Linked DNA regions of Homo sapiens. The protein of the gene in region 2 purifies or fractionates together with the protein of the main gene of each other region. This does not show direct contact. Each region holds a gene or a part of one and is shown on either strand. Other genes may lie near its edges.

The links. The genes of interacting proteins can lie anywhere in the genome.
Region 1: the proteins of EFNB1 (region 2) and FAM114A2 purify together in Homo sapiens (co-immunoprecipitation; 2 studies listed by BioGRID and IntAct, with this or other methods). This does not show direct contact.
Region 3: the proteins of EFNB1 (region 2) and ERGIC1 purify together in Homo sapiens (affinity purification with mass spectrometry; 3 studies listed by BioGRID and IntAct, with this or other methods). This does not show direct contact.

The regions. Positions count from the first base shown.
Region 1 is NC_000005.10:154,000,907-154,007,929, forward strand, and holds part of FAM114A2 (protein FAM114A2), read right to left. Parts: intron 2,064-7,023; coding exon 1,941-2,063; intron 1,485-1,940; coding exon 1,345-1,484; intron 1-1,344.
Region 2 is NC_000023.11:68,831,998-68,839,020, reverse strand, and holds part of EFNB1 (ephrin-B1 precursor), read right to left. Parts: intron 405-7,023; coding exon 127-404; intron 1-126. UniProt on the Homo sapiens protein: Cell surface transmembrane ligand for Eph receptors, a family of receptor tyrosine kinases which are crucial for migration, repulsion and adhesion during neuronal, vascular and epithelial development.
Region 3 is NC_000005.10:172,829,282-172,837,254, reverse strand, and holds the start of ERGIC1 (endoplasmic reticulum-Golgi intermediate compartment protein 1), read right to left. Parts: upstream 3,005-7,973; 5' UTR 2,842-3,004; coding exon 2,822-2,841; intron 1-2,821. UniProt on the Homo sapiens protein: Possible role in transport between endoplasmic reticulum and Golgi.

The DNA of each region.
Region 1 (7,023 bases), on a different chromosome or scaffold from region 2:
GTTATTAGTTATTAGTTACTGGGTGCTAATTTTATGCCAGGCACCATGCTAAGGGATTTACATGTATCATTTCTAATTTTTACAACAACTCCAAAAGTAAGTGATTAGTCCATCTTTAATAATAGTTACCTAAAGTCTTGTGTGTGCCAGATTTTATTTAAAGTCTTTCAAGCAATGGGAACATATCAGTGAACAAGAAAAGTCCCAGTTTTCATGGATTTCAACTTACTTGCTAAATTAAGGGGGAGACTATATACATATACATATATACACATACACACATATGTATACATATACACACATATATATTCATATACATGTAAGTCCTACTTGGTGATATAAGCTAAGACAATAAAGCAGAGTAAAAGGACAGAGAATGGTGGAAGTTGCTATTTTAGACTTTGTGGTGAAGGAAGGCTTTTCTAAAAAGGTGGCATTTGAGTAGACTTGAATTCAGAGAGGGAGTGAACCCCATTTCAAAGAACATTCCAAGTAGCAGAAATAGCCTCTTTTCCGCAGAACAGGCTCCTTTTAGGGTTGTGAGTCTCTCATCCTTAAGGAAGTTCAAGAAGACAAATTAGCCCCCTATTATGGGGTGCTGTAGTGGGATGGTGATGGTGCAAGTAAAGAGGAAGTCTGCAGAAGACTGACAGCCCCTCCCAGTTCTAATAATGGGCACTCTTATACATTTGTTTCCAATGAAAATTCTCATTATTTTAATCAGGACATTTGCTTAGAAACTACTGGGCTTTTTCTTCCCTACCTATGATTATCTATACTATTTTTGAAAAATTTTTGTACAAATCAGCAATAAAATGAGAAAAAAAGAATGGGTTCAGGACACTCAGTCAGACCTGGGGCTAAATCCCAGGCCATACAGCACAGACAGATTACTTAACTCCTCCAGTTTGCATTTCCTCATGATTAAAACTGGACTAATTACTTACTTTTGGAGGTATAAAAATTAGAAATTATACATGCAAATCCCTTAGCATGGCACTTGGAATGGTATAAAATTAGCACTCAATAATAACTATTATTAAGAACTGAGGTTCTTAGAACTCTTCTCTGTTTTCACTTATACCAAATTCCATTCCTATTAAAACTTATCTGTAAAGAAATAGTCTTCAGAGCATGAGTTGGTTAATAAAAAGGGCATATTTATAATATTGATTTATCATGGTTCAATGAAAAGAAAAAAACAACCAAAATGAACAAACCATCTAATATGTGGATGGGTGTGACGTGAATGGTTTCTTGAGAGAGACGTTTATAAAACTTTGGAAACAGGCCAAGAAAACTCCTGCAATTTGCATCATTTAGAGGAATTCTCATTACACTTACTGGGAAAGAGTTTGGCTCCTTTCTATGGCTGTCACTTCCTGCTTCCTGCCATGCAGAACCAATGCAGCTGTTTTGTGGAATAGTTCAATTGAGCAGGCAGTCAGTTCAGCCAGGCTCCGGATTGCAAACGCATGGATATCCTGGATGGAAAAACAAAACAAAGCATAGCAAAACAAAACATTTGGTGGAAAGATACCACCTTACTTCTCTCATACTACAGGATTTGTAGCAGAGACTAATAGTTGCCTTCCAATAAAGAGTGTCTTCTTCTTCCACAGTAGTGATATAATTTTACAGCTGGGCTCCCCTGAAGTCAGGTGTGACGAAGTAACTAAGTTTTGGCCAAATGATTTAGATAACAAGTGTCAGGCAGCAGTTTCTGGGAACCTTCCTCATGACAAAACACACGCGCATCCTTTCTCTCTTTTTTTCTTCACTCCTCCTTTAATCTTATAGTCTGGATCTAAGATGCTACAATCCTAGATCACAAGGTTGAAATTACGGACAGCAGTGTAAAAATAGGAGCCTGGGTCCCTGATTGTGACACATTTCAAATCTACTAAAACAAACAAAAAAGGCTTAGTTGCTTTGGCTACCTCTATTGAATTTTTGTTGACTTGCTCAGTATTTTCTGCTTCCGACTGTTTTTCTCCTTCTTCATTCTCTGCTAATGGCTTGGTCAGAGACTTCCTGATCCATTCGTGGGCGGTATTTCTTGCCTAAATAAGAAAAATATTGGCCATCAACAATTCAATTCAGTTTACCAAAATTACTGTGCACCTACCAGGAACACAATAGCATCCTAGAAGTAAGGGCTCCTGTTCTTACCTGAACGTACCATCTAGCTTTTCAGTCCTTATCCTACTAGTCTCAGCAATACTTATCACTGTGGTCCATCATTCCTTTTCAAAATTCTCTAATTGGTAGTATTTTTTTTTTTTTTTTGAGATGGAATTTCGCTCTTGTTGCCCAGGCTGGAGTGCAATGGCACAATCTTGGCTCACTGCAACCTCTGCCTCCTGGGTCCAAGCGATTCTCCTGCCTTAGCCTCCCGAGTAGCTGGGATTACAGGCGCCCACCACCACGCCCAGCTAATTTTTGTATTTTTAGTAGAGACGGGGTTTCGCCAGGTTGACCAAGCTGGTCTCGAACTCCTGACCTCAGGTGATCCCCCTGCCTCAGCCTCCCAAAGTGCTGGGATTACAGGCATGAGCCACTGCGCCCGGCCTCTAATCAGCTTTTTAAAAAACCAAGGTATAATTTACATAAAGTGCACAAATCTTCAGAGTATGGCTTAAGAAATGTTTTTATGTGTATATGCCTACGAAACCGTGATCAAGATATAGAATATTTCCTCATCCCTAGAAGGTCCCTTCATGTCCCTTCCTAGCCAATACTATTCAAACCATGTCCCCCTCCTCCTGCCCAAAGACAAACCCTCTTCTGCTCACTATAAATAATTTTTCCTAATCTTAAAATGCATAAAAATAGAAATATAAGTTCATTCTAATTTGTGTCTGGCTTAAGCACAACATAATGTCTGTTAGATTTATCCATGTTGCTGCATGTATTAGTTCATTCATATTAACTGCTGTGTAGTATTTCATTTTATATACAGTCATGCACCACATAATGATGTTTGGGTCAACAGCAGACCACATATATAATGGTGGTCCTGTAAGACTGTAATACCATATTTTTACTGTACCTTTTCTATACCATTGTGTTGCAACTGCCTACAGTATTCAGTACTGTAACATGCTGTACAGTTTTGTACAGGAGCAATAGGTTAAACGATATAGCCTAGGTGTGTAACAGGCTACATCAGCTAGGTTTGTGTAAGTACACTCTCTGATATTCGCCCAATGACAAAACTGCCTAATGATGCAGTTCTCATAACATATCCTCATCATTAAGCAATGCATGATTGTATATATCACAATTTATCCATTCTCCTGATAATGAATCTAGTTTTCTTTGGTTTTTGTAACCCCAACTTTCTTCTGTTCTCCTCTGACCTTTATGACCATTTCTCCTCAGTATCTTTTATATATTGATCCTAACTGGCCAGTCTCTTAAACGCCAATATTATTTGGAGGTCTAGCCTTCACTCTTTACTCGTCTCATCCTATTCCCTCTCCATCCATCCTATGCCAGTGGTTTCAACTATCCTCAACCTGCTGTTGACTCTTAGATCCTTATTTCTAGACCTGACCTCTCCTGAAAACTTATTCCAAATGTCTGCTAGACAAAATACTCTGCAGGCATCACACATACAACAAATAAAAACTTTGAACTCATTGTCTTTCTCTTCTTACCCCAAATTTTTCAACCTCTTTTATTTCCCAAAGTTTTAGAGGTGCCACCAGGTACCAGTTACCTGAGCCAAAATATAGGGGCCATCTTAGATTTTTTTCCTCTCCAACCAATCACCAAGATGGTCTGATTTTATCCAAGCCCCTCATCATCCTCTTCCCGTCTTCCTCCTCCCTATTACCACTACTTGAGTTCAGATCCACTTCATGACTGGTCTCTCTGCTTCTGATCTGTTTATCTTAAATCTATCTTCCAAAATGCTACCAGTGATCTGTCTTAAGCCCAGGGCTGACCATTCCTCTTTCCTTCAATGGCTCCTCATCAACTAGATCATGCTCTTTACATGATGTAACAGGTCTCCATGACCTAGACCCTACCTACTTTTCCAGCCTCATCTCTTATCATTTTCCACTTTATCTTCTGGTAAGAATGACCTCTACTGTACTTGTTCTTTCAATCCTCTACCCAGACATCATCTCTTTCAGGTAACTTAAATTCAGAACTTAACCAAATATAGTAGAATTATCTGTTTCCTAACTAAACTATGTATTATAGGATAGCTAGAGAGTGTTTTATTTGGCTTTGCACACCCAGTGTCCAGCACACTGTGAAGAACATCTACTGTTTTGGATATGGATATGACCAGCACCCATATCTCCTTTCTTTTGGTGGCAGGTTCTAGATTCTCCTTAGTTCATGTGACCTGGGTGCAGCTGCTTCCATCTTTTGGCTCCAAAAGTTGGCAAACCATTCAGATTTAGCTACTGAGAATACTAATACCCCTGTCCACAGAGTAAGTGGTGCATAGATTAAAAAGTAACCCAAGCCAGATCAATGGACATCAGTCTCAGGACATCTGGTAAAATTATCAGCAAAAAGAAGTGTTCTTTCAGTAAGAGTTACCGAAATGGAAAAAAGTCACCCACCCTGAAGCTGCCAATGGTCATTTTACCACCATATGGAAAAGCTTCCCTAAGAATGAAGCCAAAACAAAAAGGAAGCAAGCCGAAAGACACAGATAGGGATAGAGATAGGTTCCTGAATAGAGCCATGCCTGAAGCCAGTTCTGCTCCTTGATTTTCTATTTTCTTGAGCTACTGAATTCCCCTCTTTTAAATTAGTTTCTGTTATTTTTTAAGTTTCTTAACTTGAGTTTCTGTCATTTGCAAGTGAAAGAGTCCTGGTTTCTCAGAAACTGTTTATTACCACCTAGTTTATTAACTTTACATACACAGAATGTGTTCAAAGCTGTCATGAGGTAATAGGAATCCAGAGAAGACTTTGAGAGTCATTCTAACTGAGAAAACAGGTTTTATTACACATACAGTACTGGAGTTAGGCCTTGAAGGATCAGCAAGTGGGGCTACACCCAAGGCTACCCGAATGAGCTAAAGCAGACCTGTGTTCCCAGAATTTCACTGTAGGGTTCTTTCCCTATATCCTCCCACAAAAACATTCAGGAACAATCTAGCTCTGATCTATACCTTCCCATTACTTAAGCATTAACCTCTCAAATTCAAAACACCAAACAGCATGAACTATATAAAGGCTTGGAAACAGAAAAATGCAAAGTGTGTAGGCAAACAGTGAGATATCTAGCAAGACCAAAATATAGGATACTGGCATTTTACTCATTCATTTATTGCAAATATATACTAACACTGTGCCAGTGCTGGGGATTCAATGGTGAATAATACAAACTAGGAGTCTGCTCTTCTCTCTCCTAATAAGGCAATTAGCAAGCAAACAAACAAAAACATACATAAAGAAAATAAAATGGAGTAACGGTGGGTATGGGTAGAAGGTGGCTTGAGTTTGGGTGGTCAGGAAGGGTCTCTGAAAAGTTATGTTTCAGCTGAAATCTGAAGGAATTGGCCATACAAATAGTTAGGCAAAGAGAGTTGTAAGCACAGGGAAATCAGCTTGGTACACCTGAGAAACAGAATAAAGGCCAGTAAGGAAGAATATAGAGGATGAGGAGTGTGACAGAAAATTAGGTTGGAGTAGTGAGGTTTACAGAAGAGAACACTGAGAGATGAGGCTGGAAAGAATCATAACAGTTGACTAATAATACAAACAATATGTTAAATTCTTTGCAATATCTTTGAAGAGACAAATTGAGTAAAAAAATGAAGGATTAATTTATCAGAGATTAAAAAAGAAAAATGGAGAGTGATAGACCACATAAAAGAAAAAACGGATACCATAAATTTAATATACCCAAAGGAGATTTTTTTTTTTTTTTTTTGAGATGGAGTCTCACTCTGTCGCCCAAGCTGGAGTGCAGTGGCATGATCTCAGCTCACTGCAACCTCTGCCACACTGGTTCAAGCTATTCTCCTGCCTCAGCCTCCCGAGTAGCTGGGATTACAGGCACCTGCCACTGCGCCTGACTAATTTTTGTAGTTTTAATACAGACGGAGTTTCACCATCTTGGCCAGGTTGGTCTTGAACTCCTGACTTCATGATCTACCCACCTTGGCCTCCCAAAGTGCTGGGATTACAGGCGTGAGCCACCGCGCCTGGCCAGGAGATATTTTAGTAGGCATAGAGCATACCCAAAGTGACCTCTCTTGTAATAAATATATTAAGTGAAATCATCATGAACTATTGTGCCAACTCAAGGTAATTTATTATCCTTTCCCAAAATAATTAATGTCATCCACGACCACATTTCAGTCTGGAACTTCCCACTTGTTGAGATCTGCAGATCTCAATAGGTACCTTTGAACTTGGCTTCTCCAAAAGCTTATTTATTTCCAACAGAAAAATAATGAGGCCCACAGAAGAAAATGAATTTGCCCCAGGCCACACCACATGTGAGTATTAGAACAAGAATCAGAATCACAGAATCATATTCCCGGACTCCTAATTCAGTGCTCTTTCCCCTACATCACAGCCTGCCATATAAATCTTTTGAGGGCCAATGGTTAAGGCCTTGATCCTTAACCAATCTACATCTTAAGTCTCAATGCCTAAAATTTAAACAATCTGAAGATTGCTTTCAGAGAATGGCGAGAACTGCCAGACAGATAAGGAGTTACTGGCCTTACAAAAATACGTATTAATGTGATCTCTCATTAAGCATGTAAACTATGTCTTTTTCATGATTATTTCCCTAGCACCTAGCAAATTACTAAGCATAATAAAGGTTTATTGAACACATATGTATATTTATTGAACAGCTACATGTAGAGGACATCGGGCTGTCTTCTGTGGAGCCATCAACAGTGAGCATTTATTTACTATGAGCCAGGCCCTTTGTAAGAGCTATGTGTGTGAACACATTTAAACCTCACAGGAACTCTACATTATTACAACTCACCTCACAGATAGAAAAAAATGAGGCTCACAGAGGTCAAG
Region 2 (7,023 bases):
GATCAGATCCAGCAGGGTCTTAACTACATGCAATAGCATTGCACCACTTAGAAGCTCCCACTACTACAGGAGAGGAAAGAGTTAAGCCCAGGGAGAGAGCCAGAGGATGGGATGGGCGGGACTCACAGGTAATGTAGTAATCATGGTGCTTCTTGAACTCCAGGCCCATGTAGTTGGGGCTGAACTCCTGGAACTTGATGGTAAAGCGTATTTCCTGCTCTGGCCTATTGCAGGTGACCAACACGTTGGGGTCGAGAACTGTGCTACAGGCAGCTGCCTGCTCAGGCCGCACCAGGTACAGCTTGTAGTACTCATAGGGCCGCCCTGCTTCTGCTCGGGGGCAGATGATGTCCAGCTTGTCTCCAATTTTCGGATAGATCACCAAGCCCTTCCCACTCAGGAACCTGCCCAGAAGGAAGAAGATGGTCAGCCTCAGGGTTGGGGGTGGCCCCAGGCCATTCCAGAACCAGGGAAGCGGACAAGAGCCGGGCTGGGCCTACTGGGTGGAGATGGCAAGAGCAAGCCTTCTGCCCTTCCTCCATCCTCAGGCTGGGGGTGGGGAGAGAGAACCACACTACCAGGAGAGTGTGGAAGGGGTGGCCCATGGGCAAGGCTGCCAGGCTCTGACTGCTCGGCAGGGTGGAGCACTGCCTGGCTGGGGGAGCCCTTTGTCCTAATGTGGCATTTCCGCAGGGGGCTGACGTGGCCAATGGGCTGGGTACCAAGGTGTCAGGCCCATGCTACCTGGAGGTGGCAGTCTTATATACCCCCACCCCCAACAAAGATTCCTTCATGACCGCTGCTACTACCTCTCCTATACCCATACACACGTGCGCGCGCGCGCGCGCACACACACACACACACACACACACACACACACACACACACATACACACACACACAGCAAGCCCACACATGTCTTAGTCACCACTCCCCGCAGCTCCCAGCCAAAGGCTGGGGGAGCTCAATCTGTCTGGGACCCATGTCTTCTCCCCCATCCTTACTAATCTTGGTCATGATGGAAAGATAGGAACAGGCATCGCCTGGAGCAAAGGGATGATGGCCACAGTCTCTGGCCAGGTGCAGCTCTGCTCACTCCCACTGCCTATTGTCCTACTGGCAATTCATCCCACCCTCAAAATGCAAGAGCCTGAATTCCTAAACTTGATTCATCTCATTCTTAAAAAGAACAGAGGAGAAGAGAAGGGGCTCAACCAGAGACAACAGATCATAGAAGATAGGGCCTCATCTGTATCCTAACCTGTCACCTCTATGTTGCTCCTACTCCAGCTCCTGAGAGGAGATGGACAAATGCCTTTTGAGCCAGGTTCATATTCTAATCCAGAAGGCCAGGCACTGGGGGACAGCAGGGAGGGTCAGCAGCCCAGGACCACCTATCCATAGGACTCTGTCCTTGCCTAAGCACACAGAAAGAAAATGGTGCTCCATTGGCCATTTCTGAGACTGGATGGGCTGGTGCTGAGAGCAAGGCAGAACCATGTAGGAGAAAGAACACAGACTTTAGAATCAGATTCCAAAGCTAGGCCCTTACTAACTCTGTGACCTTGGATGAGCTGCCTGTTCTGAGCTTCAGTTTCTTCTCTTGTAAAGTGGGGGTGGCAAGAGCCCCTACCTTCCAATATTGTGGTGGGGAGACAAGGCAGCACATGGAGAACACCTAGCACACAATAGGCGTTCAACATGTTTGACTGCCTCTTAGAAGCAGTCTCCCAAGAGGCAGGAGGTCAGATACTAACACTAAGTACCTATGAGCTCACTCTCATATTTTGGAGGGGAAACAGGAAGAGAAGATATGGCTCCATCGTCAAGGACTTTACTGTCCAGTTTGGGTCAGAAAAGTAAATAACCCATACTCGAGTGATAGACAACACCAGGCTATCTGTAGGTATGTGTGAGGATGATGATTCAAGCAGCAAGGGCTGGAGGCAGGGAGAAGAAAGAGATAGCTCATCTGACCAGGATGGTCAGAGATGTATCCACAGGAAAGGCAGGATGAAAGTGGGTCTTAGGTGAGGAATAAGAAGTCAACACACTGAGACAGTAGACAGCAGTGGCTACAACACAAAGCCCAGGCCAGTGATTGGTCCAGCTTGGCTGGGAGTGAGAAGAGAGAAACAGAAGAAGAGGTGAAAAGTTCACCTGGGGCCAGACTGAAAGGCTTCAAGGGTCACAGCAAGCAGGGTGGGTTTCATCCCATTGGAGACAGGCTCTCAGAGCAGGAAGGACAATGGAAGGCTTCAGGCAGTGCTTAAAGAGAATGAAGCTGACAGTGTCATGCACCAGTTCACAGGCTACCACAATCATCTGAGAAAAGAGTGGTTCCATTTCCTGAGGGCCCATTACACCAAAGGTACTACAAGCAATACCGGCCTACTGGGAACTCTGGGCAAATGCCTTTGCAATGCCAAACCTGTGTCCTCATCTGAGGGAGGGAAATGATACCCAAGTAGGCGAAGAGGGAAACTGACCACATGGATGAAGTGGACGAAGAAAAGCAGCCTTTCCTCCATGTCGAGTGAGGCTCCACCAAATTGGGAGCTGCCATCTTGATGTGCAGGAGGGTAAAAGCCAGAATGAGATGGCCTCCCCACTGGTACCTAACTATAGAGGGCCCAGAAAGGAAGTAGGCATGGGATGGAAGCCTGGATAAACATTTCAGATGGAATACCCCTGTCCCATGCACCATACAAAGCCAACAAGTTTCCCCAAAGCCTCTAGAATTCTCCAGGCATTTTTTCCCTTTCCAGTGCTCACAACGGTTCCATCCAGATGGCAGGATTAGACAACTGCTCACATCTTAGAGCCAGCAGGAACCTTAGAGTCCAGGCCCTTCATGTGAGGGAATGAATGATCAGATGAATGTTCCCATTGAAAAGAGGGGTCTAAACCTACCCAGGACAATAACCCGATGGGTCTAAGAGGCCCTAAAACATTACCTGAATCCTTGTACTGTTGCATCTTAACAACACATATATATGCAGCTACATAGAGGGCACGGAAAGGGAGACAGGCCAGCTCAGCTTTCTAACCACTCGGTTCTGGCTTACTCACCAGGGAGTCCTGTCTACCCCAAGTGCAGTCTCCCATTGCCACCCAGGTTCCAGAGCCCTGGAATTGGAACAGGGCTTCTAGCTAATTGGGGTTCTACCTTGAAGCCAGAGGCATTGAGGAAACAGATGTCTACATGATGGAGGAGGGGGGAGAAGAGAGAACTATTGCCCCCAAAACCCCTCAGAGTCTCTTCAACCTCAGTGAACAGACTTCATAAATATTCATTAGTTCATTTGCATGGCAGCTGGCAGAGGGAAACTCACCTTCCCCTGAAGTGCAGAAGGGAGCGGAGCCTGATGAGACCCGCCTTCCCTGACCCTGATCCCCCATACTGGTAACCTTAGCATCTTCCCGACCACTGGGCAAACCTCGTCTTGACCTGTCAGAAGCTCAAGAGAGTGGTAACGGGCCATAAGGGATGGGTGTATAGCCAGTGAGAGTGAAGGCCAAAGCTAGGTAGAACACTAGTCATACTTTAAAGGGGGACCCTACAGTTCTCCCCTCTTACCAGATTAGGAGTAGGAGTAAGGGAAGAGGAGGAAGAGATATCCCGAAGTGAAACTCTTTATCCTCCACCTTACTTCCCCCCACCCTAGGACCAAGCCAAGCTTTTCTGTCTGGGGCCACCCCCAGACAAAGCCCTTTTCTGAAAAATAAAGGGATTGACATGGCTCAGCAGGAAGCCTGAAGCAGGTCACCATGGTAACCCCTGAGGCCTTCCCTCTCCAGCCTCAGATAGCCCTGGGACCCCAGGGCGCCACCCCAGGGAGTAAAAGGACTTGGGGGAGGCGGCCTAAGCTATTCCAGCTCTTCCCCCTCTACCCTAACCCAAGTTCTACCTTCAGCCTTTCTACCTAGCTTAGAAGCACCACGATGCCATCACTGCCACAAAGAATCCTGGGATATGAAAAGCCTGAAGGGGTTGGGGACAGTAGCCTCCAAGGCCCTGGACTGGCCAGAAACCAACTAACCAACAGCCCCCTCCTTGTTTTCTCCGGATAAGCCCTTCTCCACCCATGTGAATACAATTTACAGGGGGCAGGGAGAGCTTGCAGCTAGGAGGGTCTTGCCCAGAAAGCTGCCCACATCCCACCAGGTCTATACTTCTTTCCCTGTCACCCTGCTCTCAGGCTCTAGCAACTTGTGGTCAGAGAATGACCAAAGGGGGAGCCTGGTTCTAGGCCATGCAAGCCCAAGTCTGGTAGAAGCCTCTAGCCTCAACCTCGATTCAGTGACCCCACGACCACTGCACCTGCACCTCCCAGGGTGGCAAGACCAATGGAGGACAGACCCCAAGCCAGAGCTCAAGTCTGTTCTCATCCCAGCTAGGGTGGGGAGCCCCCAAATTAAAGGCTCCTCTTTAACTCCCCCAGCTCCACCCAGCCCCCGAGGCTGGCAGGAGCAGGCCTGGCATGTCCCAGCAGTGCCCGCCCAGGCGTGGGTGGGCAGGAACAGCAGCTGGGTCCTGGCACACACAGCTCTGTCAGAGGCAGGGAAGCCAGGAGAGTCCTGGAGGAAGTCACCCTCCCCATCTACACTGAACTATGCCCTTCCCTCTGCCCCACCTGGCTAAGGCTCGTGTCCATTATGAATTTAATACCCCCCCTCCTCGATGTCGATGTCTGCTTTCTGTGGGGTCCCTGAGAAGAGAGATTCTTAGCTCAGAGAGGAACCAAAGGTGCCACTCAGAGCTCCGCAGGGAGTGTGCCAGGCAGTGAGTTGGCTGCCTTTAGTTCAGGTCACCCAAGCAGTCAGCCCTGGAAGGTAGGCCTAGAAAAGTCAAATGAGGAAGTTGGAGCACTGCTCACCCCACACAGACAGGGCCTGAGTCACAGGGACAGATGCTTGCACACCTGCGAGGTAAGAGGGGAACTCAGGGGCAGGGAGCCAGGGCCTCTTCCCAAACCCCACCTTGAATTCCTGTCTCTCCTACATTTCAAGGCAGCAGGAATGAATGGCACACAACACAGCTCTGCCCCCATAGGCAAGTCATTGACTGGCCTTAGACAAGTCACTTCCCTTGTCCGGGCATATGCCTTCTTATCTGGAAAATGGGACCAATACCTACTTCCCAGGGTTGTTGGGAGCATTCGATGAGATCATATATGAGAATGCATTGTAAGTAGCAAGGTGCCGCCTGCCTATTAGTTAGCATGCCAAACACAGCATTATTTAGAAGTAAAAAGCTGAAGGAGCTTACATTCCTGGCTGCTAGCACCCTGACCCAAAACAATGATCGTGAAACACGCCCAAGAGGGGCTGCTATGGTCTGCGGGGTAAGGAACCCAGAATGTGGCTGGTGAGCACCCCCGTATCTCAGCTCCTCTAATAGTCACAGAGTGGACTCTCCCCCAAACCTGGTGTTCCCATGGCAACTAGCAGCCTCCTGGCTGGCCCACTCTATCTCCTTTAGTCCCTAACCCCAGAAAACAGTGATGCACCATAGTATCCAGGGCCCACGCATCCCCATTCACCTGAGCGGATGAGACAACAGAGAGCCCAAGGGAAGAAAGGGAACCCTTGATTCAGTCCCCACCCCAGCCTCACAGGTCCTTCTTGCCCTTGCCTGGCTGCCCTATGTGGGAGAGGGGAGGCAGGGGAACAGGGGACTTTAGGAGCTGCTGGATTCCCATCACTCTCAGGCTCCCACCTGTGGCCAATCAGCCACAAAGTAGAAGAGGTCAGGTCCCTAACCACCCCGGAAAAGGGCCCCCTGAGCTGGCCTCCCCAGGACTGTGAGCTAGAACAGCTGTGTGGGGCTGGGGCCAACACTTTGGCTTGGAGCAGGCAAGCATGGGTTGGGGTCTGCAGCTGCCCCCACCCATGCTGGAGTCAAGGGTCCTGGATGCCAAGCTGAACCCCCCCACCCCCACCCCCTTGTAGGGAATGTTTGTAATGTGATCTCAGGCACATTCTGACTCCCTGGAGGTGGGGGAACCTGAGTGGGGGGCAGGAAGGGGTCAGGACGGGACTGAGAGACTGAACTGCAGCAGCTGGACTTGGCTGAGGACTCAAGTGTGAGGCCTGCCGGCTGCCCCAAGTTCCCAGGGGAAGAGGCTGCGGGAGGGGTCGCCTAGGACCATTTAGATAACAGCCCCCCAACTCAGACACACACACACACACACACACACACACACGCACACACAGAGGTTCCTAAAAAAAACTCTAGCAGGACCAAACCCATCCCCCCACCTTGCGCTCATGGGGCAAATCTGACAGGAGGGGCCAAGGAGGCAGAAGCTCCTGCCACTCAGGGACTAGCATCCCAGAAGGCCCCAGCACCAATTTGGGAAAGAGGCTTGGGAGTCTTGGGCCAGCCATTCCCGCTTCCCCTCTCAGTCAGGGCTGGGGCCGGGCCGCACGCACCTTGGAACCTGGAAGCGGACCCCCAGCCCCACCACTTCTTTTATTTTGATTTTTTTTTTCCCAAGAAGGAAGCAATTAAGCAGGGTTTATAGGCACTGGGAGATTTTCTTTTTTGGGAGGGGGGTTGCCAGCTTCTGACAGGGCTGAGGAGAGAGACCAAAAGCCAGGAGAGGAAGAGGGGAAGGAAGAGAGAAAATGAGCCTGAGAGGGAGAGCACGGGCATGTGCGAGAAACAAAAGGACTTGAGAAAAAGAGGCAGAGAGTGACTAAGAGTGAGAGGGAGTGTGAGAGCAAGGCAGAGCAGGCGAGCCTAGCTGGAGAGGGGAAGTGAGCGCTGCTCGCGGAGGGTATGAGAGGGCGAACTGACACGGGCCTGAGAGGAGAACTCGGGCAGGAGGCAGAGAGGGAGGGAGACAGAGAGGGACTGTTTATTTGAAAGGCTGTGGCAGCCTGAGGGTTGGGCGCGGTGGCAGAAGCAGCCCCCAAAGCTCAAGGAGAGCTGAGGGCAGTGCCTCCTTCCTGTCCATTTGCCCCCACCACCCCGAGCCAACACATGTAGACAGTGGCTGCATTCCAGACCCCTGA
Region 3 (7,973 bases), on a different chromosome or scaffold from region 2:
CAGGAAAACACAGAACTCAGTTGCACCAGGCTCTACAGGCAGTAAGAAAATCAGAAGTATCCGTAGGGAAGGGCAAGAGTGCACTATTTTTCCTGCTTCTGATTTTAAGAAGGGGAACACGAGCAGGACGGCTGGTTTTCTCCCTGGCCTTGAACTGGGGGAGGAGGTCTAATCACGGTATACCCCTCTCCACTCCCCACAATTCTTAAAAGAGCTGACAGGATGGTGGGCCCCTCCAATCTCTCCCTTTTCTCCCAGATCTAAGGCTTTGGAGCTAACAGCCCCAAGTTCAAATCCCAGATCCACCAGCTCATGCACTGCATGGCCAGAGCAAAGGGCTTCTACTCAGTGGAGCTCCCCTCTCCTTTGATTTAAAATGAAGATTAAAACTCCCTCTCTCAGGTGACAAGGGAATCGATGTCTGCACCCCAAAGTGTGTATACAGTGGTAGATGCTCCTTGCGTGCCAGTTCACGCACACCCCCACTCCTGGGACCCCATAAGCCCTCCTCCCTTCTCTTGGAATGCAAAGAGAGCCGGACCACATGCCACCCACCTCCTCACGGTGGGGCCTGTGGCAGAGGGCTGAGCATGGACTGGACACTTGATGAATGCTTGATGAATGCACACTGAAGCGGAGGAAGGTGCATGGGGATGGTCGAACCCTCAGTAGAACCCAGGTCCTGGAGCCTTGAAGTTCACAGAGCTTAAAGAGTGCAGGTTTGCTGGGCACACATGGCTCATCCTCCAAGGTGCAAACGTGAAGCACTGAATCCATTCTCACCATTCCGCAGTGAGCCCAAGCCCTGAGAGTATTTCCTAGTTAAGCTGGGCCCCCTGACACCTGGGCACTCAGGGACCTGAAGTATGCCAAGGGAGCCCCAGACTAGCCAGCTTCTCAGAGCTGAGCATTTCTCTCTTTAAATATCAATGCCTGACACAGGGCCCTTCCAAGGCCAAAGGCTAGAGCTGGCCTTACCCATTTTCCTTACTTCCCTTACCTGCCCCCACAAGCCACCAATTCAAGGAGCACAAGGTTGGGAGCCATGTGTGACCTGAGACCTAAGTCTACCCTTCCCATTTAGCACCCATAAAGTCCAAGATAAGGCCCTCATCCCTGGAGCCTCATTTCCTCCTTGGTAAGACGGAAGGGTGAGGTGCAGGGAGAAAGGATTAAAAGATCAAAAACAGCAATTTCCCCAGCAAGCTCAAAATCACCGGAACCTACTGAATCACACAGGGGCAGGGGGCGGCGGTGGCACGAATCCCTATGGTTGGCCTGGGTAAGGGGAGGCTTTGTGGAACCAGAAATTGATGTGCCGACCACAGCTCTTATGGCCCAGACTTAACTGATGCTATTAGGACTGACCTTGAATTCCACCAGAGGGGCTGTCCTTGTTCAAAACTGCCTAGGTCTGCTAGCCTCAGGGCTGCCCGGCAGGGGCAAGAAGCCGGCAAACATTTGCTAGCTGGTATCAGGGACCCGGACAGGCTGGAAAACCATGTCAACCAATCAAGAGGTCCAAGACCAGTGTCCTCTTTGGGCCTAAACCCCAATATATCCCATGCTATGGGGGTCATGGCAGGCTAAGGGCCTTTCTCTCTGGGTAGACTGTCACTTTACACTGCCTTCACATGCAAGAAGAGGGGAAGAAATACCTCCTGTGGCACAGGCATCTGAATCACTATTTTGTGGATGTGGAAAACCCCTCCTGGAGAACACCCCCCATCCACTAATGCCCTATTTCTGAGCTCTAAATCATGCCAGACTCTGCTAAGGGTGTTTCACGCACTCAGTCGTCACAAGCGGAGACCTTATTTTTAGCCCCAATTTGCAGGTGGTGAAACTGAGGGCGCTCGGAGACTTGCTGAGGTCAGCCAGCCGAGCGGCGACAGGGAGTTCTGAACCCAGAGCCTTTGCCCCTAACTTCTAGAATATACCGAGCTGTTCAGTAGAAAGGGCAGAGCCAGGATTCTAATCCAGCTCCTCCCTGCATTAAAGCCCTGCTCTTTTCCCAGCCAGACACCAAGTGTGGCTGCCTCAGGCCAGGACATCCCCTGGGGCTCCACACCTCAAGGGAACCTCTGGTGGAGATCTCTTCCCCCGCAGGCTTCCAGAATGCCCCATGCAACCTAGACCATGAGGCAGCTGGACCCCACAAAGGACCCATTGTGGTGACTGCAGAAAGCCAAGGCCAGACCCCGGTGGCCCTTCTGCAGAGTCCTGCCCAAGGCGCCTCCTCCCCTTCCCATGGTGCCCCCATACCCAGCGGACAGGGCTGGGGCTGAGGGAGGGAGGGGCGGGGGCAGGCCTCCCGATCTGCCCGGCCTGGGGGAGCCTCAGGCTATAGAAACTTAAAACCCTCCAGCTGCCGGCAGGCTGCATGGGGCCCCAGGCCCCTCCGGACTCATTCCAGGTGCCCTGCCCCACCTGTCAGCTGAGGTGGGGTCCACCAAGGAGGCTCAGTAGAGGGAGGAGAGGGATGCTGGGGTGTTATGGGCTGTTCCCATCTGGGAGGAGGGAGGAAATGTTTCCTAGTGTGGGGGAGGGGAATGCAAGGTATCCGGGCAGGCTGGGGAGGGGGCTCGGCGGAGGGAAGGTGGGTGGATTTGTCTCCCGCTGCACGAGGGGGCCTCCGCGGCTCTGGCTGGCTTCGTGTGCGGCAGGGGGGGGGCTCGCCTGGGGTCCCTAGGGGCCTGCGGAGGCATGCACAGGGCGGGGAGCCGCTTTTGCATGCAGGGCGGGAGGGGTCCGCGGCGTGCCGGGGCGCTCCCTCTGCCCGCTGAGGGAACTCCCGACTGGCCGGGGTCGCCACACTCACCTCCTGAAGTCAAAGGGCATCGTGCCGCCGCCGGGGGTGGGAGCGCTGCAGGCCAGGCGGGCCGCGGCGCCGCGTGGGTCCGAGCCCGCTGCCAACGCCTCCTCCGGCCGCCCCGCCCCCGCCGGCCGCCCCCCTGACACTCGCCACTCGCCACTCGCCACTCGCCTCCCGCTGCCGGGAAGTGACGCTCCGCGCAGCCCATTGGGCGCCGCCCGCCCGGCCGCCCCTTCCGCCACCCGGTTAAAGGGGCCCGCGGGCAGGCAGGGAAGGGGCGGAGAGTCGAGGCTGTCGGAAGGGAAGGGAGTCCCCCAAAGACTCCAGTACTCATTCCTTCAAGCCTCCCACTTAGATTTCCTTCTCCATCTCTTTGGATGCCCTCGGACAAATTCTCTGCTTCTCCGAGCCCAGTTTTTTGCATTTGTAAACAGTTTCACTGAACTGTGATTGAGTTGGGGGCGGGGGGCGGGGTGATACAGACTTTGGCCGTGCACAGCGTCTAGCTCTGAGTGAGGGCCTAATACTGTGGGGGAAGGGAAGAGGTCGGCCATCCTAGGCTGTTAAGGTGGACTCACCTCTGCCCCTGCCGTGTCTCTCTGGGAAAGCCACTGGGCTTCTCAGAGCGCCCCCCCCCCGCCCCGCCCCTTTTGCATATCTGCACAAAGAGGACGATGACACCTACTTGAGGGGGTTTTCCTGGGGATCAGCTGAGAAACAGGAGACTGGCTTAGCACAGTGCCAGGCACCTGAAACTATTGAGGCTGGCAGTGGCTGTCCCTGCTTCCATCTGCCCCTGTCGTTCACTCCAGTGGGCATTCACAGAGCATCTGCTCTGAACCAGGTCCATCGAGAACATGCAGGGTTGTGGCAGAGGCAGATGGGACCTGCACTGTGACTTGGCCAACGTGGACTGTGCCGATTGTCTCCTTCTTAGAGCCTCAGTTTCCTCCTCAGGAATACAGAGCAGCTGCCTCCGTGACTGCTGGATTAGAGGAGATGGTAGTTGAGGTCACACAAGACCTGAGTAGGGGAAACTCACTCTGAACTTCCCCGAGGTTCTGTCACTGGCCCTTTCTCCAAGGTTGTGGTGGGACAGGGCTTCAAAAAACCCAGGGGAGAATGGTGAGGGCTCGGGTTCCAAAAGCAGAGTCAATGGACAGTTTCCCCCTGTGTAAATAGAGGGGAACAGCAGTGCTGGTTCCTCCGGGAGGATTCAGAAGGGACAACACTAGCACGGGGTCTGGGGTAGGGTGACGTGGTGAACCAAAGCCTTCCCCTAGAGCATATGCCGGGACCTGACCTCTGCGTTCCCTTTTCATTCATTCACTCATTCATTCATTCATTCATTCAGTGTCAGTGGTCTGACACTGTTGGGGGAGAAAAGGAAATCTCAGCCTGAACTGGAAACCTAGGGACAGCAGGGAGAGTTAAGGGATCTTGAGCAGCCACTGCTTCCAAACAGCCATTCGTTGGCCCTGTGTGGGAGGAAACATGCAATGATGGATCTTTGACCTCGAATCCTCCCTCCTCAAACTGTGGTCCACAGACCAGCCACATGGCCATCACAGGACAGACTCTTGTCCCCAGGCCAGACCTACTGAATCAAGTGTGCATTTGGGATGATATCCAAGGTCAGCAAATGCCTGGCACAGAGTAAATGCAAGACAGGGTTGACTATCATTGCTCTTTTCGAGTGGGGATAGAGCTCCCAACTTTTGGCTGGGCATGTGGGTGCTCACAGTGAAAGTTGCATTTCCCCAGCTTCCTTTGTAGCTAGATGTGGCATTGAGAAGTAAAGGGAAGTGTCTTGTGGGGCATCTGGGATAGTTGGTATGTCTGCTTTACCCTCTGTGTCCCTTTCTCCATCTGGCTGCCAGGAATGTAGGCGTCACCATCCTGGACCATAAGGTGGAGGCCACCACAGAGCAGAGCAACAAGACAAAAAGAGCCTAAGTTCCTGCCGGGCACAGTGGCTCACACCTGTAATTGCAGCACTTTGGGAGGCCGAGGTGGGCGGATCACCTGAGGTCAGGAGTTCGAGACCAGCCTGACCAACATGTGGTGAAACCCTGTCTCTACTAAAAATACAAAAATTAGCCGGGCGTGGTGCCACACGCCTGTAATCCCAGCTACTCAGGAGGCTGAGGCAGGAGAATCGCCTGAACCTGGGAGGCAGAGGTTGCAGTGAGCCCAGATCACACCACTGCCCTCCAGCCTGTGCGACAGAGTGAGACTCTGTCTCAAAAAAAAAAAAAAAAAACCTGAGTTCCTGTCTCTAAGTGGCAAAATACCTGTCCTCAAACACCTGCCCAAGAGAAACAAACATCTATCTTATTTAAGCTATTGTTATTCTGTATTTTCAGACACTTACACCTAAACCCAATGCTGATACACCTATGCAGCCTGGCTAGCTACTTGACTGCCCCAATGCTCATGGACTAGGCCAGTCCCCTATTACATAATCGCATGGTACCTTGTAGGTTTCCTTGGGAGAACTGGGCATGACGTGTGATTAGGTTATTATTAATTCGCTAGTAACTACTACCCCATCTGAGTGAAAGTTCCCTGAGAGGGGCCTGTCGGGGGGTAGGGGGCTAGGGGAGGGATAGCATTAGGAGAAATACCTAATGTAGATGACGGGTTGATGGGTACACAAACAATGATGCCATACACAAATGGCACGTGTATGCCTGTGTGACAAAACTGCACGTTCTGCACATGTATCCCAGAACCTAAAGTATAATTTAAAAAAAAAAAGGAAAGTTCCCTGAGACAAGGTGGTATCACCATCATATCCTAGCATCCAGCCAGACCCTGCACATGCTGGGGATGCACTAACTATGCGTTGAAGTTTGAATAGAGGCTTCCCAGGGAGGCAGGCCTTCCCACGGAGGCAGGCCTTACCAACAGAACAGCGGATGGGAGGGGAGGTATCAACATGGGCCTCCGCTGTGGGACTGGTGAGGTCTGTGAGCAGACCAGGCTGTCAGTCCCAGATGGTCCATCCACTCAAGAGCCAGTGGGAGATGGAGCTAAGAAAATCAGATTGTGTCTGCAGTACGTGGGAAGGCTCTGGGTCTCTTTGAGCAGGGAACAACAATACAAGTTAAGTTTTCGGATTATCAATCTTGTGGAAGCCTGTGGTAGGTAGCCAGCCTCCAGTGACCCTGATCTCCTGGTATTCCCATGCCCTTCTAGAATCACCTCCCACAATGAATAGGGCTGACCTATCCTGTGTAATCAACAGGATATTGCAGAAACGACAGTTATGACTCCTGTGGCTACGTCACAAAAGACTGAGGCTCTGCTTAGCCACTCTTGAATCACTCGTTCTGAGGGAAGCCAACTGCCTGTCCTAAAGAGGCTCAAGCACGATTATAAAGGGGCCTGGTCGGTGAGGAATGAGGCCTCCCACCAACAGCCATGTGAGTGGGCTCTCTTGGAAGTAGCGGCTCAGCCCCGGTCAGGGCTTCAAAGCTGCATCCCCAGCCCACAGCTTAACCACAGGTTCTTGAGAGACCCTGAGAAACACCCAGCTCAGCTGCTCCCGAATTCCTGATCCATAGAAACTATAAGATAATAAATGTTTGCTTTAAGCCATTAAGTTGTGGGTAATTAGTTACACAGCAGTAGATAAATAACAGAGACTCCATCCTCATTATTTTTTTTTCCTACCAGTAACTTCTCCCTGCCTTCCTCCATCTCACCCCCCGCCAGCCTGGGGAAATAGAAAACCACTTTGGACTCAGATCACTCTCTGCTGGGTGACCTGGACCAGTTGCTTAACTAGCTGGGTGTCTAGGTATGAAATGAAGGATAATAATACCTTACCTGTGGCAGGTAGCCTCTGAAATTGTCCCAATTAACCCACCTCTTGGTATTCATACCCTTGTGTAATTTCCTCCCTTCAAGTGTAGGCTGGACTTATGGACTCATTTCTAATGCACAAAATATGGCAGAAGTGATGAGCATGTTGCTTCTGAGATTAGGTTATCAAGAGATGGTGACTTCTGTCTTGGACACTCTCTTGCTATCTCTTGGATCAGTCACCCTGGATAAGCTGGCTTCTGTGTGTGGCTTCTGTGCCCTAAGGAAAAGCCCCTGTGGGTGAGTTTGCAAGTGATTCTTCTAAGGCAGGGGTGTCCAATCTTTTAGCTTCCCTGGGCCACGCTGGAAGAAGAAAAACTGTCTTAGGGGCCGGGCGTGGTGGCTTACGCCTGTAATCCCAGCACTTTGGGAGGCAGAGGCAGGTGGATCACGAGGTCAGGAGTTTGAGACCAGCCTGACCAACATGCTGAAACCCCGTCTCTACTAAAAACAAAAACAATTAGCTAGGCATGGTGGCGCATGCCTGTAATCCCAGCTACTCAGGAGGCTGAGGCAGGAGAATTGCTTGAACCTGAGAAGCAGAGGTTGCAGTGAGCAGAGATGGAGCCACTGCACTCCAGCCTGGGTGACAGAGGGAGACCCCGTCTCAAAAAAAAAAAAAAAAATAGAAAAATTGTCTTGGGCCACACATAAAATACAGTAACACGGGCTGGGTGCGGTGGCTCACGCCTGTAATCCCAGCACTTTGGGAGGCCATGGCCGAGCACCTGAGGTCAGGACTTCAAGACCAGCCTGACCAACATGGTGAAACCCCGTCTCTACTAAAAATACAAAAAATTAGCCGGGTGTAGTGGTGGGTGTCTGTAATCCCAGCTACTTGGGAGGCTGAGGCAGGAGAATGGCTTGAACCCAGGAGGCGGAGGTTGCAGTGAGCTGAGATTGCGCCATTGCACTCCAGCCTGGGCAACAAGAGCAAAACTCCATCTCAAAAAACAAACAAACAAAAAAACAGTAACACAAACAATAGCTGATGAGGAAAACAAATCACAAAAAATCTCATAATGTTTTAAGAAAGTTCAAGAATTTGTGTTGGGCTGGATTCAAAGCTGTCCTGGGATGCATTCAAAGCCATCCGGGGCCACAGGCAGCCTGCAGACCACACATTGGACAAGGTTGAGCTAAGGCCTGACAACAACCCTGTGAATGAATTTGGAAATGGATCCTTCTGCTCCAGTGGAGGCTTGACATGACCACGGCCCTGGCCCCCAGCTTGACTGCAACCTCGTGAGAGACTCTGAGCCACAGGCAGCCAGCTGAGTTGCACCTG